2 linked regions of the Homo sapiens genome follow. The protein of the gene in region 1 interacts with the protein of each later gene in a biochemical or structural test. Each region holds a gene or a part of one and is shown on either strand. Other genes may lie near its edges. The genes, in order: ECT2 and RACGAP1.

Evidence for each region.
Region 2: the proteins of ECT2 (region 1) and RACGAP1 form a complex in vitro, tested with the Homo sapiens proteins (3 studies listed by BioGRID and IntAct, with this or other methods).

What each region holds. Positions count from the first base shown.
Region 1 is NC_000003.12:172,743,508-172,758,482, forward strand, and holds the start of ECT2 (protein ECT2), read left to right. Parts: upstream 1-7,218; 5' UTR 7,219-7,350; intron 7,351-7,494; exon of another isoform or gene 7,495-7,609; intron 7,610-8,642; exon of another isoform or gene 8,643-8,965; intron 8,966-11,001; 5' UTR 11,002-11,023; coding exon 11,024-11,153; intron 11,154-11,787; coding exon 11,788-11,867; intron 11,868-11,975; coding exon 11,976-12,068; intron 12,069-13,475; coding exon 13,476-13,658; intron 13,659-14,975. UniProt on the Homo sapiens protein: Guanine nucleotide exchange factor (GEF) that catalyzes the exchange of GDP for GTP. Promotes guanine nucleotide exchange on the Rho family members of small GTPases, like RHOA, RHOC, RAC1 and CDC42.
Region 2 is NC_000012.12:50,019,415-50,035,095, reverse strand, and holds the start of RACGAP1 (rac GTPase-activating protein 1), read left to right. Parts: upstream 1-9,601; 5' UTR 9,602-9,698; exon of another isoform or gene 9,699-9,768; intron 9,769-13,918; exon of another isoform or gene 13,919-14,034; intron 14,035-15,289; exon of another isoform or gene 15,290-15,352; intron 15,353-15,681.

The sequences.
Region 1 (14,975 bases):
TTCTGGGAGTAATGAATGAGTTCTAGCTCTGTTAGTTCCTGCAAGAATTGGTTGTTTATAAGAGTCCAAGCCAGGTGTGGTGGCTCATGCCTGTAGTCCCAGCTGCTCAGGACTCTGAGGCAGGTGAGCCCGGAGTTTGAGGTTACAGTGAGCTATGATTAGCATTCCAGTCTGAACAACAGAGTGAGACCTTGTTTCTAAAAATGAGAGTATGGCCTCTGGCACCTCCATCCTCTCACTCTTGCCTCCTCTGTCACCATGTGATGCCTCTGCACAAAACAGCTCCCCTTCCATTTCCACCATGCGTGGAGGCTTCCAAAGGCCTCACCAGAAGCAGAGGCTGGCACTGTGTACAGCCTGCAGAACCATGAGCCATGAGGCCAGGAATGGTGGCTTACGCCTGTAATCCCAGCACCTTGGGAGGCTGAGGTGGGGAGATCACTTGAGGTCAGGAGTTCGAGACCAGCCTGGGCAACATGGTAAAACACTGTCTCTACTAAAAATATAAACATTAGCCAGGAGTGGTGGCATGTGCCTGTAATCTTAGCTACTAGGACGGCTGAGACAGGAGAATCACTTAAACCCGGCAAATGGAGGTTGCAGTGAGTCAAGATCACACCACTGCACTCCAGCCTGGATGACAGAGTGAGACTCCATCTTAAAAAAAAAAATTGTTTTAGAGTGGGATCTCACTCTGTCACCTAGGCTGGAGTGCAGTGGTGCAATCATGGCTCACTGCAGCCTTGAACTCCTGGGCTCAAGTGATCCTCCCACTTCAGCCTCCTGAGTAGCTGAGATTACAGGCACATGCCAGTATGGCCAGCTAGGTATCCCTTTATAGCAATGAAATGGGCTAAGATACCCCATAATCATGGGGAAAGAGTTATCACATATTTTTAGGAAACATAGGGTTAGCCAGGTGTGATGGCTTATGCCTTGTAATTCCAGTGACTCAGGAGGCTGAGGTGGGAGGATTGCTTGAGCCCAGAAGTTCGAGACTAGTGTGGGCCAAACAGCGAGACACCATCTCTTGAAATTAAAAAAAAAAAAAAATTAGGTGGGTATGGTGGCACACACCTATAGTCCCAGCTACTCGGGAGGTTCAAGTGGGAGGATTGCTTAAGCCCAGGAGTTCCCAAGAGTTTGAGACTGCAGTGAGCTATAATGGTGCCACTGCCCTCTAGCTTGAGTGACAGAGCAAACTCCATCTCACCTCAAAAAAAAAAAAAAAAAAAGAGCAAGAGAAACACATAGGGTTAGAAAGCATGTTCTAATATTTAGTATGCAGATAATTTATTCCAATTTATACACAAAACCGTAACCAAGTTAATAAGTAGAAATATGCAGTAATAAGTCAACATGAACTTACTGACCTATTTTGATATCATGAACAATTGATAAAGCAACAGTAACAAGTAGAGAAGGAGTATTCATGGCTGCTAATTTACCGATGGAAAAAAAAGATGCAGAAACCCCAGCCAGCCTCTGACATGAAATAAGATATGGACAGAAATCAAACTACTAAAAAATCTGGTTATTTTCCCTTCTTTCCTCTTTTCCATAATTTTTTTTTTTTTGAGATGGGGTCGTGCTCTGCTGCCCAGGCTAGAGTGTAGTGGCTTGATCTCAGCTCACTGCAACCTCTGCCTCCTGGGCTCAAGAGACCTTCCCACCCCATCCCCCCACTCTGAGCAGCTGGGACCACAGAAGTGCATCACTATGCCCAGCTAATTTTTTGTAGTTTTGGTAGTGATGGGGTTTCTCCATGTTGCCACAGGCTGGTCTCAAACTCCTGAGCTCAAATGATCCGCCCACCTCAGCCCCCAAAGTACTGGGATTACAGGGGTGAGCCACCGTGCCCAGCCTCCATAGATATTTTTTGAGAGCACAAGTGCCAGGGTACAAAGATGGAAAGGATATGGTTCTTTTCCCTATTCTTGAGTAGCTCATATTTTAATAGAGGAGACAGCCATGTTAACCAATATTTCCAATACAAGGTGACAGGAGCCATACTGAGGTATAAACAGTATTAAGCTCATACAAATCAGAAGAAGCAGTTTACTCTCCATGGGATAGTCAAAGAAGGCTTCATTGAGGTGATGCTTGAGTGGGGTCCTGAATGAATAGGAATTTTCATGCAGACAGAGGGAGGCAGGGCAGGTGGAAAAGAATATTCAAAGGTAGGGATTTAGGAAATCGCCTGGAATGTTTGTGGACTGACGAAAAGTTCAGTATGGCTGAACACAGGGTGCGTATGTGGTAGGGATGAGGGTGATAGAAAATTAGGTTACAGTCATCTTGGGAAGTCCATCTTATACTGGACTTTATTCTGTGAGCAGTGAAGAAACCATGTCTTTTGGTTTAGTTTTGTTTTTAAGGAGGGGGATACATAGTCATATTTAGTTTTCTAAATGAAGATAATTCTGTGACTGATGACTGGAAGTAGAGAGAGTGATTAGTTCCCAAAAGACCAACTAGAAGGCTGTCCTTGTCATAGTTTGGATGAGAGATAATGAAGGCCTAAACTCGGGCAGTGGACTGAAGGGGGAAGATTCAGATTCTAGAAATATTTTTCAGGTCAAATTGGGAGAATGGTGTTGGGGTTGGTGGTGCAGGGAGACCAAGAGGAGGAAGGGAACAGGAAGATGACTTTGAGAGATCCAACTTGGGAGTCAGAGTGAATGGGGATTCTACTAATCAGGAGAGAAATACAAGAGGCAGAGGAGATAAAGGATGGAGAGCTGGGGAAAAGAAGAATTCACTTTAGCACATGAAGAGTTTGATAGGATTGTGGGTCACAGGAGCAGAAAAAATTGGTAAACAACTGGCATTATAGAGTGGGTTTCAACAAGGTCTGGCAAGAAAGAGAGACGTGGAAGCATATGCATATAACTTAAATCCCTGGGAATGAATGAGTTCACCTAGGGAAAGGGGGTTGCCTGAGAATAATACTTTGGGGAACAATAATATCTAAGCAAAGGAAACCGAGAAGGAAACATCAGAGAGGCAGGAAGAGAAGTAAGACAGTGAAAGTGGTGGTCTTTCAGCAGCTGAATTAATGACCATGGGTTAGAAAGGGGTGCTATCATTAGGGGGAACTGAAGGCTAAATATCCTTGATTCATGTGTGAAAGGGATTAAGAGATGGGAAGAAAATTTCGTAATCAGAATGGAATGTTTGAAGTTAACATTTGAGAGCTAAAGCAATTGAGTGTAAAACATTTAGGATATTGTCCATCAAAATAAGTGTTGAATTGAGGTTTTGGGATTCAAAAATTCAAGGAACTGTGAATCTAATTGGCTGGTTCATCAAAGGAAGAAAGACAGAGAACTAGTCTTCTGAATTTGGAAACTGTTCTATTTATTTAATGATACTGCTATTTATCAGAAATTTATATGGATGTAGTAATTTTTACATATTTTGATTCCACTCTCATCCTCTATATTTAATCAAAGTCCCAGTAATTTTTCCTATTCCTTATCTCTCCAACCCATCTTTTCTATCTTAGTTCAGACTATCATTTCCTATGAGTTTGAATTCAACCATATTCTCACTGGTCTTTCTTCTATTTCATTCTTCTATTTCAAGTGAAGTTGTGTTGTGTTCCCAGATTGCTACTTTTTTTTTTTTTTTTTTTTGAGACGGAGTCTCGCTCTGTTGCCCAGGCTGGAGTGCAGTCGCGTGATCTCGGCTCACTGCAAGCTCCGCCTCCTGGGTTGAAGTGATTCTCCTGCCTCAGCCTCTGGAGTAGCTGGGCCTACAGGTGCGCACCACCACGCCCGGCTAACTTTTGTAGTTTTCTTAGAGACGGGGTTTCACCATATTGGCCAGGGTGGTCTCGAACTCCTGACCTCAGGTGATCCGCCCGTCTTGGGCTCCCAAAGTGCTGGGATTACAGATGTCAGCCACTGTGTCTGGTCCTGATCGCTACTTTTAAAAAATAACACAGACCATATAATTTCCTTGCTTCAAGGTTTTTAATTGATCTTCAGTGCTTTCAGCATAAAGTTTAAACTCTGTCATGACAGTGGAGCTCTTCCCAAGCTCCTTCTAACATGGCATTTATTTTACTTTTTATTTTTTATTTTTTGAGATGAAGTCTCGCTCTGTCGCCCAAGCTGGAGTGCAGTGGCGCAATCTCTGCTCACTGCAAGCTCCGCCTCCCGGGTTCACGCCATTCTCCTGCCTCGGCCTCCCGAGTAGCTGGGACTACAGGCGCGTGCCACCACGCCCGGCTAATTTTTTTGTATTTTTAGTAGAGACAGGATTTCACCATGTTAGCCAGGATGGTCTCGATCTCCTGACCTCGTGATCCGCCCGCCTGGGCCTTCCAAAGGCATGTAATCTCATGCCTGGGATTACAGGCATGAGCCACTGCACCTGGCCAGCATTTATTTTTTTTTGAGATGGGGGCTGGATGGTGGGGGGGAGGGGCGGTCTTGCTCTATCGCCCAGGATGGAGTGCAGTCACTACCTAGGCTGGTCTTGAACTCCCGGCTTCAAGGGATCCTCCTGCCTTAGTCTCCCAAAGTGCTGGAATTATAGGCATGAGCCCCCACACCTAGCCTAACCTAGCGTATGTCAGTTGTCTTCCACTGTCCTCTTCATGTATATTATGATCCAGCCACACCAAACTGTTTACTGTCTCCTATATATATTGAGCTTTTATGAGAGCCTAAAGTGCACGTAAACAAGCTAATATTAAGAATTTATGTTTTTAAAAAAGTTCAAGGTTAATATGCCATTCAGTTCAATTGCCTATGCCGTATATAGTATTTAAAAATTTTTCATAATGCTGATCTTGAAACACTATAGCACTTGAAACAGCTTCTGACTCAGTAAGACTAAGTTACTTGTATCATTGTTTTGTAGGTATTTGAATTCTGTGAAAACCTATGCATGCAATAAATTTTTCACCGCAAATACAGCTATCTGCTAGAAGTGCCATGAGAACAAGGCCCATATTTGTCTTGTCACACCTATATTCTCAGTGCTAGCATAGTACCTAATGGGTGCTTAATAGTTATTAAATGAATAAACTATGATTAGGTTAATCAGGACATCCAGTCTCTCAAACATTATGAATGAACTTGGATCTAGCTCATTCACTCTCGAAATATTTATTTGGTACCTACATGTGAAGATTCCTGTGTTTATTAGAGAGCAATGTGTAACATTTGCCTTTGCAGTACTAGCTTTTTGAAAATACCTGAAGATGAGGGATCATGTTTTACTTTACCAGACACCAGCCCTCTGCTAGGTGCAATTAAGTGGCATATGATCACCTATGCACACGATTATCTGAAATACTCCTCTCCACATTGCTTTCTTTGAGCCTGCAGACAGATCTATACTAGACTTTATTTACACTCATCTATTATTTCTGGGTTCTAATGCGGGCTAAAATATTTATTAGGAGACACTGGGTAAGTTACTTAAACCTTTCCTACAGTTTCATGGTATCATGGGACTATGATACCTACTTGTGGGTTGTTTTAAGGATTAAATAAGGTATAAAGTGCATAGTAAAGTATCAGTATGTTCATTCTCTTTCTTCTCTCCCTTATACTGTAATTATCTGTTTATCTGCTAATTTCCCTCACCAGATTGTGTGGTCCAGACAGGCAGTTTTCTATGCCTTATTCATCTTTATAACCCCAACAAGCACAATGGCTGTCTTAAAATTAGTAAATATTTGCTGAGTAAATGAAGACCTAAGAGAGTGAAAAAGGTTGTATTACCCGTTTATTTGTTAATCTAACTGCCACACATCCCTTAAAAGAAATCAAGTACAGCTTTTGTTAGGGAAGCTTAAAATTCATGGCAATGATACCATACACAGTTAATCATTAGCTTTGGAAAGTCTGTTGAGCAGAAAGCGGTGCACAAAGGAAGTAGGGCTGCTTCCCACAATAGCTTAATATGTTTTCAGTGATGAACGTTTTTGGAATGCTGGGCACACCCGACTTCCAAATACGCAAGCACATTCCAAATGGAAATTTCAATTACTGTTTTTCTTTTTTTCTGCCGTAACAGTTATCACAGCATTTTAATGAAGGTCAGACTTAAATACTGACAAGCAGGGAAACCAATAATTACCAGATTGCTTCATTCATTTTGTGGACAGCATTATAAACTTTTCAGGCATTCTAAGATTGCCTGACAAAATTAGAAAAAATTGTTAAGTCCCCACAACCTGCTTGAGATGCTCACAAGTGTTCCATCCCAAAGTACACGTTTGCCTCTTCTTATTGGTATTTAGGTTCTGGCATCTGATTCCCCTTTCTTCTTCTATTTATATTAGCCTTCAGGTGGGAACTATGGAAAACCCACCTGGTGGGGGTGTATTTTTCTTAAGAGATTGTGTTATATGGTATCATATTTAGAAAATAAAGAAATTATTTTCATAATAGCAACGCTAATCACAGGAAAAACTTGATACATTCTTGACTAGACTTTAGGGGAAAGTACAAGTTCTTAGTGGGCGGAGGGGGGCAAAGACGAAGCAATTTGGCTCCAAAAATTCTAGAATCTCGTGGCATATTTTTATCAAATTCAAGCTTATCTTTAAAAAAATCCGAGAATTTTTCTAATTTCTAAGAATTGATTCTAACCCGCGATACTCCCTAGATGGGAGCGCAGTGCTTTAAATAATAGCATTTAAATAAGCGGCTGCTGATTTGAAGTCCACCTGGGGAGTCCGAGTTCTAGGACCGGTCCTTGGCCCTGCCACACGCCAATACAACCATCAAAGTCAAAATCCCTTAACTCAAATTTAAATACATTCCTAAAGCAGAAAGCATCCCGATAGGAAAATCCTACAGCTCACAGCAAGCAGCAGGGAAACATTTATCTCTGGCGGCACTGATTTAAGCTTAAAAGATTTGGTATCGTTTAAAAAAAAAAAAAAGCTGGGTGGGGCCGAGGAGAATCCACCCAAACTTTCCTCAGGAAGTAGGATGTTTACTGAGTAAATATGCGGTAGTCACAGAAACACCTGCTACTCCTTTAAGACCTCAGGAGCCACCACCGCCACCTCCTGGCCACATCCGGGCACTTCTCTGCAAACTCCTGGCGTCCCGACGCCCGAGTCGTTGGGCTTATTTGAAACACACGCACAACCAATCAAGCGGCGCCTGCCGGGACTTGGAGAGCGTCGACCAATCACCGCCCCTCTGGAGACTCCTGCCTATGGGAAAGAGGTTGACATCACGCGCCAATCGGCATGGCTCTTAGAGAGAGCAGCTTAGTTTTTGAATCGGTTGTGGCGGCCGCCGGCGAGGAATGGCGGTATTTGTGAGAGGAGTCGGCGTTTGAAGAGGTGGAACTCCTAGGGCTTTTTTGAGAGTGGTAAGGACTCTGTGTGAGTGAGAGAGGTGCAAGTGGGCGAGCGGCTCCAGAGCCAAGGGCTCTTTTGCCTGCGGTCGACGTCCCCGCCCCTAGTGACCGCGAATTCCGGAGCGCCCCAGCTCAGGCTTCCCGGATCCGGGAACTCCCTCGCCGCACCCCACCCCCAGCAGCCGGGCCCTGACGCGGAGTGGGAGACCGAAGCCCCCAGTATTGCTGGGCATCTTCGCCCTCACCTGTTGGCTCTTTTGGACAGAAGAGTGTGGGTGAAGGGAGGGAGTTGGGAAAGGGATTTTGGCAAGCCGCGCAGCCCTGTGGCTTTGGGGGCCGGCACTTGCAGCCTTTGGGGGCTTATCTCAGAGTGCGCCGTGGTTTTATTCTAGGATTCATCCTGGCTTCTTTGCGGGAAGTTTAATTTTTCGTTTTTGCAAGATAAATCCAGGCCATCCGCCCCTCGTCCTCCCCAGCCACCCGGCACAGATGTGTCCGGCTTAGTGGTTAAAGGCGCAGCCTCTGGATTTAGCCGGGCTTTGAATACCTCTTTTACCCCTTACTAACAGTTTGACTTAGGGGAAGTTGCTTAACCTCTCTGTTCCTACGTTTCTTCATCCATACATTGAAAATAATAATAGTACCTGCCTCTTAGGATTACTGCAGAGATTAAAAGGTTTAGGACAATGTCTGCCACGTATTAAGCGTTAAGTAAATGTCAGTTGTTAATAGTAATGTTATTGTTAATAACACCACCATTATATCTTGGATTGCATTTTAGTCCTTCACCTTGGAAGATGATTGCCTAAAAAGTATTTAAGTAAAAGGAAACTTGAATGTTTGTTTACATGGCAAATTTTATCTCTGGGATAAAAGGGGGCATGTGTTATAGTGTGTTTAGTTAGAAGCTCCTTGGGTCTGTTCTTGGGTGAGAAGCTGTGTAGGTTTATGAACACTGATCCTATTGTGCTTATTTTAAAGGCTTCTGGAATACAGTAATTTGAAAAAAAGTGATTAATATATTTCCATTTCTAATCTGACTGTTGGATGTTAGTTATGTCATCAAGTTACCGTAGTGCATCTCTTTTTCTCTATACATTTTGAAGCTGTTTTGGCAATAAATTGATCATATACAGTATCATCAGGGGCAATTTTAATTATTAATCATCTGCTTTCGATCATCTGCTATGCTCCCTCCCTTTTATTAATCATCTGCTTTTGATCATTTGCTGTGCTCCCTCTTAAAGAGGGAGGCATAGGAGAAAAATGTAAATATTTTCAAGAAGTTTTTTTTTTTTTTTTAGACGGAGTCTACCTCTTGTTACCTAGACTGGAGTGCAGTGGCACGATCTCGGCTCACTGCAACCTCTGCCTCCCGGGTTCAAGCGATTCTCCTGCCTCAGCCTCCTGAGTAGCTGGGATTACAGGTGCCTGCCACCAAGCCCAGCTAATTTTTGTATTTTTAGTAGAGACGGGGTTTCATTGTGTTGGCCAGGCTGGTCTCGAACTCCTGACCTCGTGATCCGCCCGCCTTGGCCTCCCAAAGTGCTAGGATTACAAGTGTGAGCCACCGCGTCCGGCCTTTCAAATGGTATTTTTGATTTTCCTCTTCCAGTCCTTAAAGCAGGTTAGCTCATCTCCTGACTTTTTTTTTTTTTTAAACATTCTTTTAAGGGGACTTTGAATGAAAGCCACTTTAATGCCTTTTCATTGGAAATGGTTGAGTGTAGAAGACTTAAAATAATAGGGCTGGATAGAATTTATCATTGATTCTAAATTAAGGCTGTTACAACTATTGGACCGCTCCTTTGGAGAGCCTTAGAATAATGATTGACATGGATGTATGGTAAAGCCATAAGAAATATCCATATTGTGAATATTACATGAGAATAGTTGTTTGTTGTTCACTTTAAGACATCTATTCAGTTTTCATCTTAACTAGATTTGAGTTGTAGTACTATGTGTGTTCCACCAATGTGGAAACTGAGGTTTAACTGACTATGTGCAGGGCTGAGACAGGAAGCTGAGTTGCCTGATTTTGAAGTGTCACATAACAGCATACAGTTTAAACTGTTACTTTGCTAAGACTCTGGAGGAAGGTATTTGTATATTTTATTAATCTGAAGAAGTAGGAAAGGGGAAAGTCTGACATGTAGCTCTCGTTAAAGGTGGGTCCTCTGTATATTTGCCTAATATTTAGAAATTTACTCTCAGTAAAGTTGACTTATTGAAAATTGATAAAAAAATCTCTAAAAAAATTTTTTTAGAGAGACAGGGTCTTGCTCTGTCACCTAGACTGACTGGAGTGCAGTGGTGGGATCACAGCTCACTACAACCTCAAACTCCTGGATTCAAGTGATTCGCCCACCTCAGCCTCTTGAGTAGCTACTATAGGCACCTGCCACCCACACCTGGCTAATTTTTAAATTTTTTGTAGAGATGGGGTCTTGCTATGTTGCCCAGTCTGGTGTTGAAGTCCTGCCCTCAAGTGATCCTCCTGCCTTGGCCTCCCAAAGTGCTGGGATTTCAGATGTGAGCCCCCAACCCACCCTGATGAAAACTTGTTAAACCTTTTATTCCCTGTCTAGCTTTTAAACTCTTCTTAAGTCCTGGAAAACTTAAAAAAGGATTTTCTTTCATAGTCCAGAGTTATATTGGCACTCACCCATGCATAATTGTTTTGTCAAACCTTTTAGGGGAGAGGTGTTTTTAAAGAATTATGAAAATACTGACAAGGGACCAGCCCAATTATACCGGAGAGGTTTAGAGACATCCACAGAGGATGAGTCAAGAGTGTTGGATTGGGGGTTGGAAGACAAGATAGGTGGAGAGTCGAGCACTAAATGCAAATAGATGTGATGTAAATTATGATTTGTGCCTGAAAAATAGCTGAGAAATTCATTGTTGCTGTTGCATAGATTGTATAGGGACTGGGGTAGTTACAGATGGTGAGGGTGAATAGTTAGGCGGGGACCAAATTGTGAACTTGGTGGTGAATTTGGACTTGGACATATAAGGAGTACTCATGGAAGTTGTTAAGCAGGGAAGTGATATGGTCACATTTGTATTTAGGTGCATATTCCTGAAAACCATGTGGAGAGTGATTTCTAAGGAAACTGATGGTAAAGTTGTGTGGAGCTGGTTTATTAGACCAAGTGACCATTGTGTCATTGAACGTATAGAGAAGGGGGGCCAGATTCCAGAGATACTTGAGGTGGGATTGATAGGAATTTTGGGGAGGGAAATGTGGGAGAGGAAAAAATTAGGATAGATCTCAGATTTTTGGCTAGGATTTTTGTGGGAGGTGTGTTATGGTGGTGTTATAATTGAATATAGGAAGAGAAATTGGTTGAGGGCAAAGGTGTGGAGAAGGGAGGTAGAATAATATTTATGACTACAGTTGAGTGTTTGTTGTATGTCTAGTAATGTTCTATGTGCTTTTGATACATTGTTATTTTTATTATATTCCTGTGAGTCAGGTATTAGTATGTTTATTTTACAGAAAAAGAAACTGAGGCTCAGAGAAGGTCAGTGACTTTCTTTGGTTCATTAAAAAAATGGGTAATAATACTTTTTATAAATTCTAGGTAAAAAGAGCCTCTAATACTTACTTTTGCCCAATGACCATGTTTATGTATTTTTATTCAAATTTTATTTTTTCAGCTGATTTAGAAGAATACAAATCATGGCTGAAAATAGTGTATTAACATCCACTACTGGGAGGACTAGCTTGGCAGACTCTTCCATTTTTGATTCTAAAGTTACTGAGATTTCCAAGGAAAACTTACTTATTGGATCTACTTCATATGTAGAAGGTAAACCTGTTACCTGCTTTAAAACAATCAATTTCTATTTTAATTCTAAACTTATTAGTGACTTTCTTAAGATTTAATTTTAATACCAACTGTAATGCTAGAGCACAGGTATTAAGTAAATATTTGTTTACAGAATCCTTTTACACTATGTCATTTTTCTGATTATTATTTGGGTTATTTGTATGCTTTGCAGCTTTGAAAAGGGAGGCATCTTAATTTGGATATTCCTTTTTCTGTATGTGAGGGCGGTCTAGCTACAGCATTATTAGCTAGAAGTTATACAGTCATGACTGGTTAGGTGAAAGCTACTTTTTCCTTTACCACTTTATAAATGGGTTTTTCCTAAAATTATATGCACTGTTGAGGAGGATGACTATGTAAGATAGCGCATTCTCTGGCTAGGAGGAATGCTGATGTTTGTATACCCTGCTACAATATGGTTTCTCTTTCTCTAAAGTGATATATAGCCAGATATTTTTGTAATAAGTTGGGAGTTGAGTCCTATTAAATTTAGAGAAAGTTATGATTCCCTCAAAGATGTAATACATACTAGATATAGCCAAAAGAGCGATAAGGACCTACTGATTGTGATGTTAATACATGATAAACATTGAAACATTTTACATTTTAACAGAAGAGATGCCTCAGATTGAAACAAGAGTGATATTGGTTCAAGAAGCTGGAAAACAAGAAGAACTTATAAAAGCCTTAAAGGTACGGAGTTTTAGGTTTTAGTTTTTTTTGTAATGCAATTTTTCTTCCATCAGTGTGTAAATAGTTTCATAGCTTTCTTAACCTCATACTTAAGTCTCTTTTCCACAGACTATTAAAATAATGGAAGTCCCTGTTATAAAGATAAAAGAAAGTTGTCCTGGAAAATCGGATGAAAAATTAATAAAAAGTGTTATTAATATGGTAGGTCAAAGTAACTCATTGCATGTGGCATGCTGCACTTCCCTTGATTGTATTATTCTACTTTCTGGTGATTGGAATTAGGCACAAGGTGTATTGTGTGCAATCTGAAGCTTAATGAATAGAAACTGTTTTATACTTTTTAACTCCTTAGCTTCTTTTTTCTCATTCATTTTATATTTAGTCTAAATTCTTGCTGTATTTCCAAAATTATAAATCACGGTAATTTATAATCAGGGAATTTGCCTCAGCATACGAAATAATCTAATTCTGGAATCCAGCTGTTTTAGTTTGCTAGGGCTGCCATAACAAAATACCACATAGTTAATTGCTTAAACAGTAGAAATTTCTTTTCTCACAGTTCTGGAGGCTAGAAGTCCAAGATTAAGGTGTGTGTAGGTTTAGTTTCTCTTGAGGCCTCTCGCCTTGGCTTGCAGTGTCCTTTTGCTGTCCTCACATGGCCTTTCTTCTGTGTGTCCTTGCATCCCTGGTGTTTCCTCTTATTGGGACACCAGGTTGGATTAGGGCCCACCCCTATTATCTCATTTAACCTTAATTACCTCTTTAAAGTCCTTATCGCCAAATATAGTCACACTCTAAGGACTTCATTCTTCATTCTAGGTTAGGGCTTCAACATGAATTTTGGGGGTACATAATTTAGCACATCACACTAGCCTTGCAAATAAAATTCAAATAATTTACTGACCCATTTTGAGTTAAAAAAAAATTTTTTTTTTAATTTAACACGAGTTACAAGAGTTATATAGGTACTTTAGTATCTTCATTATTTTTCGTGGATGTATAAAGTGTTTACTGTAAGTAACTTGCCTTTTTATATCCTACATTTGCCATGCTGCAACTGCTACATATTGCACATCTTTCTCATATATCTTACATATCTGCTAAAATGATTATGCTGATTTTCCTTTCTGTAAGTATTAAGTGCTATAGTATTATTTTCCTATTTTTCTGAAGATAGTTAATTTGTACAATAAGAACTTTATGTATGGTATCATTTTCTTGGTCAGTAGTGGATATCTTTCTAATGCATCTTGATATCAAAATGCATGTACTTAAAAACTTTAGCATTCTAATTTTATGGAACTTATGCATACTTGATGATTTATGACTAATAAGTAATAAGTCAGAATTATGCCTTTATAATACTGATCTTTAAAATTTAAGAACTTAATTTGAATGGAGATATGTATATGTAAAAATGTAAGTACGTAAAGAAATATGGTTGTTCATTAAGTGTAATGCTGATTATTGTGTGATAGAAACTTATTTTCTACAAATATAAACATGTTAAAGTTGATATTGAATTGATTGTTAAGCCTTATTTAGAGAGACAGATGGATTATTTGATATATAAATAATTTTTATTTCTGCTAACTATATGATGAAAAGGACATTAAAGTGGGCTTTGTAAAGATGGAGTCAGTGGAAGAATTTGAAGGTTTGGATTCTCCGGAATTTGAAAATGTATTTGTAGTCACGGACTTTCAGGATTCTGTCTTTAATGACCTCTACAAGGCTGATTGTAGAGTTATTGGACCACCAGTTGTATTAAATTGTTCACAAAAAGGAGAGGTAAGCATATACATTTATTATGACTTTTCAAGTTAAAATTTTTATTAATGAATTTTAATTAGCAAAAAATTTATTTGGAAAAATCTCATTGATTGCTGAGAGCAAAATATTTAGAATAGGAATAATAGTGGCTATTCTAATGTGGTCCTTTAATTCCTCCATTTTAAACTTAGTGGTGAAAAGCTAAGGCCTTTGAAAGTTAAATAATGATAACTGTACATATGCATATACACAGACAAATACATAGTCCTTTTTTTTTTTTTTTTTTTGAGACGGAGTCTTGCTCTGTGCCCAGGCTGGAGTGCAGTGGCACGATCTCAGCTCACTGCAAGCTCCGCCTCCTGGGTTCACGCCATTCTCCTGCCTCAGCCTCCCCAGTAGCTGGGACTACAGGTGCCCGCCACCATGCTCAGCTACTTTGTTGTATTTTTAGTAGAGATGGCGTTTCACCATGTTAGCCAGGATGGTCTTGATCTCCTGACCTCGTGATCCACCCGCTTCGGACTCTCAAAGTTCTGGGATTACAGGCGTGAGCCACTGCGCCTGGCGTATACACTATCAATACCACAATGTCTTAGAGAAGATTACTTGCTTAAACTTGGGTTCCAGAAATTCATACATATACATAAACTTTTATTTTTCTCAACACAGAACAGATACCACGGTTCCATTTTTATCAGTTACTGTATAACTTAAAATTCAAAAATTATTTTAGCTTTTTGTATTTATTTATTTATTTAATAAATAAATACACGATCTCTGCTCACTGCAACCTCTGCTTTCCCGGGTTCAAGCGATTCTACTGCCTCAGCCTCTCAAGTAGCTGGGACTGCAGGTGCATGCCACCACGCCTGGCTAAGTTTTTTCTATTTTTAGTAGAGACAGGATTTCACCATGTTGGCCAGGCTGGTCTCGAACTCTTGACCTCACGTTATCTTCCTGCCTCTGCCTCCCAAAGTGTTGAGATTACAGGCATGAGCCACCGTGCCCCGCTTCTTTTTGTTTTTAAACAGCATTTCAATATGAGTCGTATGAGAGTTAGTCCCTATTTGGTTTTGTTGCTGTCTTGGCATTCTTAAGCTTGCCTTGTTTACTTAAAATTGCTTAGGTCTTTGTACTTCTATTGTTACACATGTTAGTAATAATAAGCACATGTTAACCTTTAATTCTCTTACATTTTGATTTGGAGTGGTTGGTTTCAAAACCCAAATAAACTTTAAAAGGCCAAATTTTGAAAAATAATCTTATATAATGATGAAAATCAAATTTATTCTTTTATTATTTTTAAACCGTTCTCTTTTATACACACACACACAC
Region 2 (15,681 bases), on another chromosome or scaffold:
TTTCTATTTGTTCCTATTAGAGTTTTGTTGTTATTGTTGTTTTGTGGGTGGTTTGTTTTGTTTTGTATTTTTTGAAACAGAGTCTTGCTTTGTCTATTACAGTTTGATTTAGTTCAACACTTTATTGAGTGTGAAAGGGTGATTCCTAGGCATGGGGCAGGGAAACATTGTTTTTGATTTTTTTTTTTTTTTTTGATGAGAGAGAGAGAGAACATCAAAAAAAAAGGGGAAAGAAACAGAGAATGTTATATGTAAATGCTTATTTAGAAATAAAATGCTTGTTCCCTGGTGTCACAGAGAAACAGCACTTAAACATAAATTTAATTCTCTTAGCAAAGCCGTTTTTACTTTCTGCAGAAAGGGTGCTCATCGCAGATGGAACAATGGCAAGAGCACATTTGAACAAAAGAGGGAAGCAATTTTTATTCCTTATGCAGTTTTTCCCTGCTACTGTCTTGTCTCCATTGGCTGGAGCCAGACTGCACAATTTAAAACCCGATTGGCTAGCAGTTTAAAACTTTTCTAAATAGGTAAAAGTAATGGAAGGATAAAGGAAAAGAGGAAGTTGCTTATGCCAAACAGGGAAGGGGCATAGGCTGCGAGCTGGTACCTGCCTGTGAGCATGTCCAGCACAAATATTTTGGTTTAAGGTACAAGGACATAGAATGTACTATATGCCTGTGAGTGTGTTTAACAGCTACATAGGATAGGGCCCAACAAAGAGTTATTACCATAAAATAAGGAGGCTTAAAGCAAGTTAGTCTTTAAAATAAACTATTATTTCTAACATTATTTTTTTAACAAGAAGGGAAACTTTGAAGAGGAACTTTTTACTTTCTACAGAGAGGAAGACAGAGGGATACAAAATAATTATAAGTAATACTCATGGAGTTACTATGTGGCAGGCACTGTGCTAAGAGCTTTGCAAACACCCATTTATTGCTCCCAACAGTGCTTTACACTATTATTATCATCCCCATTTAATAGATGTGGAAATGGAGGGACAGAGAAGTTAAGTTGCCCACTACACAGGTCATAAATGGTGGAAGTAGACCTTCACCCAGGGCCAAAATAACTCCAGGCCTGTGTGTTTACCCACTGTGCTTATTGTTTCTCTTAGAGAAATAGGAAGAAAACCTTCAATGGCTCACTAGTCCCTCAGGAATTACACTGAATTTATCTGGCCTGTCATTCAAGGTACCTCAGCTCTGCTCTCAAAAGTCCTTCCAGCCTGTGGGGTGTGATGGCTCAGGCCTGTAATCCCAGCACTTTGGGAGGCCAAGATGGGAGGATCACCTGAGGTCAGGAGTTTGAGACCAGCCTGGCCAACATGGTGAAACTCCATTTCTACTAAAAACACAAAAATTAGCTGGGCGTGGTGGTGCGCGCCTGTAATCTCAGGTACTCAGGAGGCTGAGGTGGGAAAATCGCTTGAACCTGGGAGGTGGAGGTTCCAGAAAGCCGAGATCGCGCCACTGCACTCCAGGCTGGGAAAGAGAGCGAGACACTGTCTCAAAAAAAAAAAAAAAAAAAAAAAAAAAGTCCTCCCAGCCTTACCCGCCCCCCAGCCAAGATCCTCTCACTCCAGTCAGGCTGGACTGACTTCCCTATTTCTCTCAGCACTTCCTGCCTACTTCAGTCCCCAGCCTCCTCCCTGTTGGGGTCCTATTCATCCTTCAAAGCTCAGCTCAGAGGTCTCTTCTTTGACAGTCTTGAGTCCCAGCCAGAGGTGGGCCCTCCCTCCCTGGACCCCCAGAACACAGCCCCCACCTCCGCACTCTGCGCTGCAGGCCCTGGCCTTGCACCCCGCATCGCCCCACCCCCGCCCCTGGGCTTAGCGCACAGCCTGGAAGGCAGAAGGGCTCAAAGCTTCTTGGTGTAATTCACAGGGGGAACGATAATCCTGGATGGGAGGTAGGGAGCCAGACCTCCAGAGGGCAAGTGAGAAGGCCATGGGAGGCGGAACCCAGCGAAGGCGAGAGAATGAAGACACGCATCGGGCTGTGGCCAGACGGTTGGCAGCCAGGGACCTAGCCAAGCCTCCCTGCCCCCGACGCCCGCGTCCAGGGATCGTCGATGACAGTTCGCCTGTCGGGACATCGGATCAGGCGGCCGCCCCTGGGGAGGTGAGGGCCGGTGGGGTACGGGCGCGCTCGGGAGGTCACCCGCAACCACCTATCAGCACCAACCCCATCATTGGTGCCTGGGCGCGGGGGAGCGCGTGGGAGGGGGGCGCCCCCGCTTGCCGCCCCCGCGCGGGATAACAGGCGCGTTCCAGCCTGACCTCTCCCGCACCTCGGAAGCACTCAGAGCGCGCGTCTCGCCGGACATGGGAGATTAAATAACCGGATACTGCACCTCTCCTAGGTGGCAGAGCGGGGAATCGAACCCAAGCTTTCTGGCACCAGCTCTCAAAGCTCTCAAGCTTCTCCGGTTACAAGTGCAGCCCCAGGATCCCTCCCTACTCTGGAAGCTACAGTTTGGGAAGAAAGGGAGTTAGGAACCCGCGCCCCCACGCCACCCCGCTTCACACACACACACACACACACACACACACACTCACCTTTTCCTTTGCTGCCTTCTCGCTGGGGCGGGTGCAGCAGGGAAGGAGATTGAGAGGAATTGGAAGGGTGGGTGGTATTTTGGGTAGAGGCAGGTGTAAGAGAGACAGCATCTCCAACCCCCATCCATTATTTGGGACACCGTCCTATTGAACTTAACTCACCTCCATTACACAGCTATTTATTGGAGCTGCAAAAGCAAGACTAGTACATGGAAGGAGTACCATCCCTTCTTCTCTGGAAGTTCATAGTCTAGTAGGGAAAATAGGCATTGCAGAGTGTTTACAGTGGGCCAGGAACTGTGCTAAGTGTTTTATAAGGATAACTCATTTATTCCTCTCGACAACCCTAGGAAATAACTATTATTATTATTATTATTATTTATTTTTGAGACAGAGTCTCGCTGTGTCACCCAGGCTGGAGTGCTGTGACACAATCTTGGCTCACTGCAACCTCTGCCTCCCAGGTTAAGCAATTCTCCTGCCTCAGCCTCCCAAGTAGCTGGGACTACAGGCACGTGCCACCACACCAGGCTAATTTTTGTATTTTTAGTAGCGATGGGGTTTCATCATGTTGGCCAGGCTGGTCTTGAACTCCTGACCTTGTGATCCACCCTCCTTGGCCTCCCAAAGTGCAGTATTATTATTATTATTATTTCCATTTATAGATGAGCAAGTCAAGCCACAGCTGACCTGTGAAAGGCCGTGTAACAGTGACTGGAAGAACCAGGAAGCCTAAACAAATCAGGAGTATGAAAGGGAGAGAACACAGTGCTGCGGGAGTTTATGCCAAAGGCACGGACCCAGGCATCAGCGTTTAAGTTTAAACTGTCTAGAGGGTGAGTAGAACTTATCCTGGTGAAGAGGCACTGGAAGTTCGGGAAGTTCCGGAGAGTGCTGGCGCACAGGGAAGGTTGAAGGCCCCAGGTGGAAATGGTAGCCAGGTGCGTGGAGGAACTGCAAACGAGGGTTGGGCAGTGCAGCTAGAAGGGCGAGCAAAAGCAGCCTAGGAGGGCCTTGTAAAGGATTTTGGTCTTTTTTTTTTTTTTTTTTTTTTGAGATGGAGTCTTGCTCTGTTGCCCAGGCTGGAGTTCAGTGGTGCAATCTCGGCTCACTGCAGCCTCCACCTCCCAGGTTCAAGCAATTCTCCTGCCTCAGTCTCCTGAGTAGCTGGGATTACAGGCACACACCACAATGGCCGGCTAATTTTTTTGTATTTTTAGTAGAGACGGGGTTTCACCATGTTGGCCAGGCTGGTCTTGAACTCCTGACCTCAAATGATCCGCCTGCCTCAGCCTCCCAAAGTGCTGGGATTACAGGTGTGAGCCACCGCGCACGGCAGAATTTTAGTCTTTATTAGAAGGCAAGTTGAAGTCATTAAGGATTTTAAGCAAGGGAGATATATGATTAGAATCACATTTTTACTTTAACATTTTTTTTCAAGTTTATTTTTAAAAATTGGCCGGGCGCGGTGGCGTCTGTAATCCTAGCACTTTGGGAGACCAAGGCAGATGGATCACCTGAGGTCACCAGTTTGAGACCAGCCTGGCCAACATGGTGAAACCCCATCTCTACTAAAAATACAAAAAGTAGCCAGGCATGGTGGTGGGCGCCTGTAATCCCAGCTACTCTGGAGGCTGAGGCAGGAGAATCTCTTGAAACTGGGAGGCGGAGGTTGCAGTGGGCCGAGATCACGCCATTGCACTCCAGCCTGGGTGAAAGAGCAAAACTCCGTCTCACACACACACACACACAAAAGACATAAAATTGAACATATTTATCATGTACAACATGATGTTTTGAAGTATAATGTATATATATTATGGTTTTTGTTTTGTTTTGTTTCTGAGACAGAGTTTCACTCTGTCGCCCAGTCTGGAGTGCAGTGGCGCAATCGCGGGTTACTGCAACCTCTGCCTTCTGAGTTCAAGCAATTCTCCTGCCTCAGCCTCCTGAGTAGCTGGGATTATAGGCATGTGCCACGACGCCCGACTGATTTTTGTATTTTTTAGTAGAGACAGGGCTTCACCATGTTGGGCAGGCTGTTTTCAAACTCCTGGCCTCAAGTGATCCACCCTTCTCAGCCTCCCAAAGTGCTGGGATTACAGGTGTGAGCTACCACGTGCTCTCAGACTGTACATATATTATGGAATGATTAAATATAGCTGCTTTTTTTTTTTTTTTTTTGAGACAAGGTCTTGCTCTGTCACTCAGGCTGGAGTGCAGTGGTGCAATCATAGCTCACTGCAGCCTTGAACCCCTGGGCTCAAGTGATCCTCCTGCCTCAGGCTTGCAAGTAGCTGGACTAGCCAAGCCCACTACATTCAGCTAGTTTGTTTGTTTTAAATGAAAGCAAGTTTGTTAAGAAAGTAAAGGAATAAATGAGTGGCTACTCCATAGGCACAGGAGCCTAATTTTTCAGTTTTTTGTAGAGAGGAGGTCTCGATATATTCCCCAGGATGGTCTTGAACTCCGGGCCTCCAGTGATCCTGTCGTCTCAGCCTCCCAAAGCACTGGGATTACAGGCATGAGCCACAGCTTGTCTGGCCAAATCTAGCTCATTAATTAAGCTATGCATCACTTCACATAGTCATCATTTCTGTAGTAGAATTGCATTTTAATTTTTATTTATTTATTTTTTTTGAGACGGAGTCTCGCTCTGTTGCCCAGGCTGGAGTGCAGTGGCGCAATCTCAGCTCACTGCAACCTCCACTTCCCAGGTTCAAGCAATTCTCCTGCCTCAGCCTCCCGAGTAGCTGGGACTACAGGCGCCCGCCACCACGCCCAGCTAATTTTTTGTATTTTTAGTAGAGATGGGGTTTCACCATGTTAACCAGGATGGTCATGATCTCCTGACCTCGTGATCTGCCCACCTCGGCCTCCCAAAGTTCTGGGATTACAGGCGTGAGCCACCGTGCCCAGCCCTCAAATTTTTTTTTAATTAAATTAAATTTTATTTTTTGAGACAGAGACTCGCACTGTCACCCAGGCTGGAGGGCAGTGGCACAATCTCGGTTCACTGCAACCTCCGTCTCCCGGGTTCAAGAGCGATTCTCCTGACTCAGCCTCTCGAGTAGCTGGGATTACAAGCACACACCACCATGCCCGGCTGCTGTTTTTTGTTTGTTTGTTTGTTTGTTTGTTTGTTTTTGAGATGGAGTCTTGCTCTGTTGCCAGGCTGGTGTGCAGTGGCGCGATCTCAGCTCACTGCAACCTCTGCCTGCCGGGTTCAAGTGATTTTTCTGCCTCAGCCTCCTGAGTAGCTGGGACTATAGGCGTGCAGACCACCATGCCCAGCTAATTTTTTTTTTTTTTTTTTTGAGATGGAGTCTCACTTTGTCGCCCAGGCTGGAGTGCAGTGGCGCGATCTCGGGTCACTGCAACCTCTGCCTCCCAGGTTCAAGCCATTCTCCTGCCTCAGCCTCCTGAGTAGCTGGGACTACAGGCGCACGCCGCCACGCCTGGCTAATTTTTTGTATTTTAGTAGAGACAGGGTTTCACCATGTTGGCCAAGATGGTCTCGATCTCTTGACCTCGTGATCTGCCCACCTCGGCCTCCCAAAGTGCTGGGAATACAGGCATGAGCCACTGTGCCCGGCCTAACTTTTGTGTTGTTAGTAGAGACAGGGTTTCACCATGTTGGCCAGGCTGGTCTTGAACTCCTGACCTCAGGTGATCTGCCTGCCCTGGCCTCCCAAAGTGCTGAGATTACAAGTGTGAGCCACTGTGCCCGGCCATAATTGCATTTTTATTTTTATTTTTTTGAGACAGAGTCTTTCTCTGTCACCCAGGCTGGGGTGCAATGGCATGATCTCAGCTCACCGCGACCTGTGCCTCCCAGGTTCGACCAATTCTCCTGCCTCAGCCTCCCAAGTAGCTGGGATTACAGGCATCCACCAGCACACTTGGCTAATTTTTTTCGCATTTTTAGTAGAGACGGGTTTTCACCATGTTGGCCAGGCTGGTCTCGAACTCCTGATCTCAAGAGATCCACAGGCCTCGGCCTCCCAAAGGGCTGGGATTACAGGCGTAAGCCACCTCGCCCAGCCATAATTGCATTTTTAAAAGATCACTTGAGGAGTAAAGAATGCAAGGGAGGGCAAACAGTTTCACTGGGGTTGGACTACCAGATTGGACAAGGGTAGTGACAGGGGGAAGGAGAAAAGTGGGCACACACAAGAGATCTGTACTTAGGAGTTTCACTCAGTAATTGAGGTGTAAGGGAAAGAGAGAAAGCTGAGGCATTCTACACTCCCCTGCTTCTCTCCCTCACCCCTGAGGTCCAATCATTTAATAAGTCCATTTCATTTCATTGATTGATTTCATAAATATCTTTCCCACCTGTCCCCTCCTTGTCATCCCACTGCCACTGGCCTAAATAGAGAGTCTACCTTTACATTTTTCCCTTTCCAGACAATCCTGCTTGCCATGTTAGCATATGTTCTATCCAAAGACAAATCAGTCAAGTCAGTCCAAGTCCCATTGTCTTGTCATTGAGTCCGTTACAGGATCAAGTCCAATCCGTTCCTAGTGTGGTCTCATCCTACTTTGCCAGTCTCTCCTTTTCCTTCTCAGGCCAAAGCTACTCAAGAAGCATCACACTCACTTAACCCCCAACATCACCTGAAAGTTGAGGTAAATGTTCCTTCACAGCCTAAACCTTCATAAACGCTTTCTCGTGTATTGATTGATTGATTGATTGATTGATTTGAGATGGAGTCACGCCCTGTTGCCCTGGCTGGAGTGCAGTGGCATGATCTCGGCTCACCACAACCTCTGCCTCCCGGGTTCAAGCGATTCTCTTGCCTCAGCCTCCCGAGTAGCTGGGATTACAGGCGTCTGCCACCACGCCTGGCTAATTTTTGTATTTTTAGTAGAGATGCGGTTTCACTATGTTGGCCAGGCTGGTCTCGAACTCCTGACCTCACGATCCACCCGCCTCGGCTTCCCAAAGTGCTGGGATTACAGGCATGAGCCACTGTGCCTGGCCTTGTGTATTTATTAAATATATGCTTGCCTCATTCTTCAGAGGTCACATGATCTTCCTATTGCCAGTAATTTTCCATTCCCTTCTCTCCTGTAAATTCCTATTCACACAAGACCCAGCTCAGATCAGTCTCTGCAGGCTTTTTTAACACTCCCACTCCCCAGATAGGATTAATTGCTTCCTTGTCTGTGCTCCTAAAGTACTTTATACATGTCTTTGTCCTACTACTTATTTCATTTTATTATAGGTATCTAAGCAGGCACAGGCTAATGCAATCAATGAATGCTCCTGACCTTGAAAGGTTGTTAGGAGGATTAAATGGGATAACAAATGCACAGTTCATATTTTCTTTCTTCATCCCTTTCTTAATAATATTAATAATAATCTGTATTGCAGTTTACCAAGTATAAACTTTGATAGTGTACCACACTGTGTCTCAGTCGATCTGGGAATAAACCTGTGAGATAGAGATGGGATTATTATTTCTACATTATACTTGGAGGAAGTGAAGTACAGAAGTATTAAAAAGTGATAATATGGGTGGGTCAGCCGAACGCCTGCTATTGTTCAAGGCCAGGTGGAGTGCTACTGTCTGTAATCCCAGTGCTTTGGGAGGCTCAGGTGGGAGGATCACCTAAGGCCAGGAGTTCAAGACTAGCCTGGACAACATAGTGAGACCCTTCTCTACAAAAGATAAACAAACAAGCAAAAGAATTACCTTGATCATGTGCCTGTAGTCCTAGGTATGAGGGAGGATCCCTTGAGTGTAGGAGTTCATATTTGCAGTGAGCTATAATTGTGCCACTGCACTCCAGCCTGCGTGACAGAGTAAGACCCTGTCTCTAAAATAAAAGTGGAGTCAAATTTTCGGGTTACAAAATTTGTGATGTGATTTTTGGATAAAATACAATTTTATATATTTATGGTGATGTTTTGATGTATGTATACACTGTGGAATGACTAAATCAAGCGAATTAATATATCCATTACCTCACATACTTTATTGAGGTGTGTGGTGAGAGCATTTAAGATCTACTCTTAGCAATTTTCAAATGCATTATACTTTGTTATTAACTACAGTCACTGTGTTGTACAATAGATCTAAATTTTCCTCTAACTGAAATTTTATATCTCTTGACCAACATCTCCCTAATCTCCCTCCCCCAAATCTGTGATCTTTCTTTTCTTTTTTTTTTTTTAAATTAAGGACCAATGTGACAGTAAGTGATCTTTCCTTTAAACCACAGCGCTTCTTGTATGCTCCAGCCAGTATTTTTCCAAATTGCGGGTAGCCATGCGTTGTTGAGTAGTGAGTTCTGGGTACTTTGCATGTAGTAAGGATGAGCAGAGTTTTCATTACCCGGTTGCAACGTAAAATGTATTTCTCACTGTGGGTCCAGAGTTTTTAAAAAGCATGAAAGCTCCTGTGCTAGCACAATGCCAAGTTCTAAATAACGTTTATTAAATGGAATTATAGTATTTTATTTTCATTTTGTATTTATTTTTGTTTTCTAGAGCTATCGCCTCCATTCGTAGCTACTGGACAGTAGAGACCATACCATCTTTATTTTTCCGATTCCCAGTGGAGTGCTTGTGATGATGTGGGCTCATTCAATGTGTGTCAAATAAAAGTCTGAATGGATACATCAATGGAAGGGATAATATAGCTCAGTGAATGTGCTTGAAACTAACTGCTGTTCTAACTCCTGGTATTCTTCTGATTCTACTGTGAGAGCTGACATTGTTCAGTTAATCGTTTCCAAGGGCCCTAGTCCCGCAGACAGTGAGACCAAGAATAATTCGCATTCAGGAAGTACCACTTGCCCTTAGTCAATATGGCATCCTGAATGACTTCCGGAAAGGGCACCGCAAAAAAAAACAAAAAAAACCGAAAAACCGTTGACATTAGTCAAAATGGCCACCTTTGGCTTCGCTTTGTCAGAATGCGCATGCTCATTCCCGTTCCCGTCACCTCCGCGTGGCCCTGACGCGTACGTCACACCGTAGAGGGACGGCGCGGGAGGAATAAATTTCTCTGTGATTGGTTGGTGAAGGTTTTCAAACCGGAGCTGTGGGCGCGGCGCTGCTCTGCCGTTGGGTGAGGCGCGGAGCGAAGTGAAGGGTGGCCCAGGTGGGGCCAGGCTGACTGAAGTGAGTAGTGGGGGTGCCAGACCAGGTGCGTCTGCCGCTGGATTGTGATAGGAAGCAGAGTGTTCGTGTGGTGAGCCGTGGCCGCCGCGGGGGTCCGGGACAGCGGGACAGCGGGACAGGCTGGCAGCCACAGCCTCTCCACTCGGGCTTTTCTGGGGTGGGGGTCGTGGCAGGTCGAATGGACGCGGCCTGGGAGGGTCGGGGGCTTCTGTCTTGGCGCCGGGTTTTGTGGAAAGCCGGGGGCGTCTTTTTGAGGTGGTGGCTGGACCAGGGCAGGAGTCATCCTAAACAAGAGTCTCTCAGTCAGATACGAGTTTAAGAGTGGTTGGAGTGACACCCCATCGTTTTCGAAGGGAAGAGCCCTGGTGTTTGAGAGGCCCGGGCGGCCTGCAGTGGAGCCCCTCTACTTCGTGGGTCTCGTATGTCTAGGGAGGCAAGGCAAGGCAATGACATCTTGTCCTTCTCATCCTGATTCTTACCCTCAGTAACAACGAGGCCTTACTTGTACACTTTCACGTACATTTCTCTTCACAGGATTTCATCCGTAGGCCGAGAGGTGTGTGTCGGAAAGTGGGGGTAGGTGGGTAGATAAGCCCTTTTTTTTTTTAAGAAAGCATTATCTTTCTAATGTGTCGGGTAAATAAGCTTTCCGAGTTATTGTAGGTGTTTAGAGAAGGCGCCTTTCCTGTAGCTTAATCATTCAATAAGTATTTATCTTTTGGAGGGGACTTAAAAAAATTTTTGTATATTTAGGGGGTACAAGTGCAGATTTCTTACATGCATATATCGCGTCGTGGTGAGGTCTGGTCTCTTAGTGTCCCCATCACTCAAATAGTGAACATTGTACCCAATACGTAGTTTTTCAACCCTCAGCCCCCTCCACCTTCCCATCTTTTGTATTCTCCAGTGTGTATTATTCCACTCTGTATGTCTGTGTACCCATTGATTAGCTTTCACTTATAAGTGAGAACATGCGGTATTTGACATTCTGAGTTATTTCACTGAGGATAATGGCCTCCAGTTCTATCCATGTTGCTGCAAAAGACGTGATTTCATTCTTTTTTATGGCTGAGTAGTATTCTGTGGTGTATGTCTGTCTATATATTACATTTTCTTTATCCAATCCTTCGTTGATGAACACTTAGGTTGATACCGTATCTTTGCTACTGTAAATTCTGCTGTGATAAATATATCAATGCAGGGGTCTTTTTGATATACTGATTTCTTTTTTTTTTTTGAGACGGAGTCTCGCTGTGTCGCCCAGGCTGGAGTGCAGTGGCGCGATCTCGGCTCACTGCAAGCTCCGCCTCCCGGATTCACGCCATTCTCCTGCCTCAGCCTCCCGAGTAGCTGGGACTATAGGGGCCCGTCACCACGCCCGGCTAATTTTTTGTATTTTTAGTAGAGACGGGGTTTCACCGTTTTAGCCAGGATGGTCTTGATCTACTGACCTCCTGATCTGCCCACCTCGGCCTCCCAAAGTGCTGGGATTACAGGCATGAGCCACCACGCCCGGCCGATATACTGATTTCTTACCCTTATACCCATTAGTGGGATTGCTGGATTGAATGGTAGTTCCATTTTTAGTTCTTTGAGAAGTCTCCATACTGTTTTCCATAAAGGTTGTACTAGTTTACTTTTTTTTTCTTTTTCTTTTTCTTTTTTGAGAAGGAGTCTTGCTCTGTGGTCCAGGCTGAAGTGCAGTGGTGCGATCTTGGCTCACTGCAAACTCTGCCTCCCGGGTTCAAATGATTCTTCTGCCTCAGCCTCCGGAGTAGCTGGAATTACAGGTGTGCACCACCATGCCTGGCTAATTTTTTATTTTTAATAGAGATACGGTTTCACCATGTTGGCCAGGCTGGTCTTGAACTTCTGGCCTCAAGTGATCAGACTGCCTTGGCCTCTCAAAATGATGGGATTAGAGGCGTCAGCCACCATGCCTGGCCTGTTTACTTTCATTCAATAGGTATTTCTTAAGTGCAAAGTGTAAGTAGAAGACAGTCTTATTTGGTCTTAAAGAATGTGCAGTTAATTTGGGGTAACAGAACTTAAAAAGATAACTGGTGAGTCTGGTAAGCCTATACACTGTTGAAAGTACTGTGCATTAGTACATCCCTTTTAGAAAACTTTTTGGCACTATTAAGAGCCATAAAATGTTTTTACACCCTAATATAGCACTCCTAGCCTTGGAAATCTAGTCTAAGGAAAACAGTCACCTGAAGAAAAATATTGTCCATAGGAATGCTCAATTCATTTATTCACCAAATATTTATTAGTCATTTACCAAATGTCAGGTACTGTTCTAGGCATCAGGGAAGAAAACACAAAAATCTCCGCTTTCTTGGAACTTAAGCTAGAGGAGAAACAGACAATAAACTGAATAAATATGTAAGTATGTTAGATGGAGAGAAGTGCTTTGGAACAAAGTAAAGCAGGGTAATGTTAGAGAAAGGCTGCAGTTTACAATAGGATGGTTGGAAAGACCTCACTGAGAAAGCAGCATTTGAGTAAAGATATTTGAGGTGAGAGAGTGACCATGCAAGAGATTCCAGGCAGAGGTAAGTGAAAAACTGGAAATGACCTAAACGTCCAAAGAAGAGAATAGTTAAATAGTTGTTCATCAACTCTTTAGAACTTAATGGAAACATGATAGAAGCAAAACACAAAATTATATGTAATGTATGATTGTAACACCATGAAATAAGAGTGTAAAATGGGCAAAGATTAGATCAGATGGTACATATAGTTGTTTAGGATAGTGAGATTTTTGTTTTGCTATTAATTTTTTGTTTTTGTTTTCGTTTTGTTTTTTTTTGAGACAGAGTTTCACTCTTGTTGCCCGGGCTGGAGTGCAATGGCGCCATCTTGGGTCACTGCAACCTCTGCCTCTCGGGTTCAAGCGATTCTCCTGCCTCAGCCTCCTGAGGAGCTGGGATTACAGGCATGCACCGTCATGCCTGGCTAATTTTGTATTTTTAGTAGAGACAGGGTTTCTCCATGTTGATCAGGCTGGTCTCAAACTGCCGACCTAAGGTCATCCACCTGCTTCAGCCTCCCAAAGTGCTGGGATTACAGGCGTGAGCCACCACACCTAGCCTGTTTTACTGTTAACTTTTTGAACATAGAAGATTAATAATAAACAGTATTTTTGTATCTGCTAAATGAATGTTATAGATAATAAAGGAAATCATTTTGGACTGAAATGGTTAGGGAAGGCTTCAGTGAATTGGTGAGACTTATTCTAGACCTTGAAGGATGGAAGACCAGAATAGGAAGAATTCACAGGGAAAAAAAGAGGTATTCAGTATGCTGAACTTCTAGTAATTTTCTGAAAAATCACAATTCAAATCTTCCCTTCCTTATTTTAGTCTTCATGTTGGATTGAGAACATTTTGTTTACTCTCTGCAAGTGATTTGCTTATAAAGAACATTTGGTTTCAAGATAATCCTTCTGTCCGCCAGTTGTATTAGAGACTTTCGATACAGTGAAGCAGAAGCTGGACATTTCAGGAAAAGAATTGTCCTCACATTGTCCTCAAATGTGTTCCTATGAAAGGATCTTAAAGTACTGAGATTATCTTTGAGAATGGTTTTCCTTGACAGCAGGGAATCTATATTGTTGATTTCTTGGAAATCTCCAGATTTAGCAATGTTTGTGGGAAAGTTTTTCATTAAAACACTTTCCTGAAAAACTCCAGCAACCTTTCATTGCTTTGTCTTAAAGTATTTAACACCCTTGATGCATCTAAAAAACCTGATATATAGGTCTCTTAATAATGTTGTTTGAAGGAGGAGGAAGAAGAGGATAGAGACTTTTCCCAGGATACCCTGCAGTAAGATCTGTAATAGTCTGTTTTTCTGAAGGATGATATCTACCTCTTGGCTGGGTGATTGAAATTAAATTGGGGGCTCAAAGCAATCACATCCAGCTGAGACTCTTTCATGGTGTTTCCAGATTGCTCCCTTAGGGATACTCACAGATTGGGAATCTGTAACATACTGACTTCTCCACCTCTGGGGTTCCCCATCAATAACAGCTGAGATTCTCTAGCACCTTTTGGTTTAAAGTGCTCCACAAACTGAGTTTCTTGCTGCACGCAGGGATCGTTTCAGCTTTCCCGAAAAGGCAGCAGTCTCTGTTGTGGAAAGTGACAGCTGTTTTACAGCTGCAAAAGCAATGTACTACAATATGACTTTGTTTTTGTTTCCTTTCACATTAGTGTATCTCCTAGCTATGGACTAAATAATACATGGGGGGAAATAAACAAGTATTCATGAGGGTGAAAATGTGACCCAGCAGGAAAATTACAACTATTTTCAATTGACGTTGAATAGGGTGAGTAAATTTTAGCTTTTTGAGTTACAATTTGGCTGAGATATCAGAGTTAGTACTGATATAGAAAGATATTTTTGTCATCTATAAATAATTCCTGAGAGTCACTTCTGTAGAATGTTAATAAAAATATATGGTCCCCTAGCATATAAAGAGAAGAGGATTATATTCTGCTAGTGCCATTTTTGGATTACCCTAAGTAAATCTATGTTAGAGGAAAAAATAACTCTTCAGAAGCAGCAAACCTCATCTAGAACAGCTTGTTTAAAAGCCTAGACCTGGCCAAATTTTGCTGTTTCCTTGATTCTTCTTGGTCTGGGTTCCAGCTATAATTTGTGTTTTATATGTGTTGCTGTTTGTATGACATGTTATGGTTTGCAGGAGGTCTCTGAGTAGGTCTGCAACATATATGGTCTAATTGATATTTTTGTAACTTATCTCTTCAATGTGTTGGGTTGGAGAGAATATAGATTTTGGACTCAGACCTGGGTTTCAATGAGAACTCGACATTTATTGGTTAATTTAAGGTTTCTGGACTTAGTTGCCCATTGTCTGTAAAATGGAGATAATTAAGTTAGTGAGGCCAGGCATGGTGGCTCACGCCTGTAATCCCAGCACTTTGGGAGGCCGAGGCAAGCAGATTGCTAGAGGTCAGGAGTTCGAGACCAGCCTGACCAACTTGGTGAAACTCCATCTCTACTAAAAATACAAAAAAAAAAATTAGCTGGGCCTGGTGGTGGGCACCTGTAATCCCAGCTACTCGGGAGGCTGAGGCAGGAGAATCACTCGAACCCTGAAAATGGAAGTTGCGGTGAACCGAGATGGTGCTACTGCACTCCAGCCTGGGTGACAGAGCAAGACACCGTCTCAGAAAAAAAGTCAAATTCACTTAAAGAAAAAGTGTACGTGAAGTGTCTAGTTTAGTGCCCGAATCATTTCAAAGCACCTAGTAAATACTGGATTCTTTTCTTTCTAATTGTATAGTATTATTTTTAAAAATGGTCTAAAATTCTGAATTTACTGATATCCTTATTTGGAGACAGCCTAGGGGGGAAAACACCTAGATTTGAGAATCACTGTTTTAGGATGGAAGTAACAACTATCAGACCAAAACCAAACCTAAACAAAAGAAACTCACTTCATACCAACTAAAAGATACCTTATATTTTGGTAGTGAGATTGTAAACTTATACATTTTAAAATTTTTGTAATATTCTATGAGGTAAATAGAGCAAGTGTTATTGTTTTCACTTTATAGATGAGTCATGGAATTTAAGTGATTTACTGAAGATTATACTACTGGTAGATAGAAGAGCTAAAGGTTTGTCCCAGGACCTTTTTATTTATTTATTTATTTATTTATTTATTTTAAGAGAAGGGGGTCTTGTGATGATCAGGGTGGTCTCAAACTCCTAGACTCAAGTGATCCTCCCACTTCAGCCTCCTGAATAGCTGGGACTACAGGCACGCACCACCACACCCATCTTGTCCCAGGACTTCTGCTCCCTCTCCCGCTTTTAACTGTTCTTTTTGCTTTAAACTATATTACACGTTGATGTTGAGGTAGAATGGAAATTCTTTTGACCATAGCATCACAGATATGTGTGTGTTTGTTCTCTGAATTAACACTTATCAATTTTTTTTTGTGAG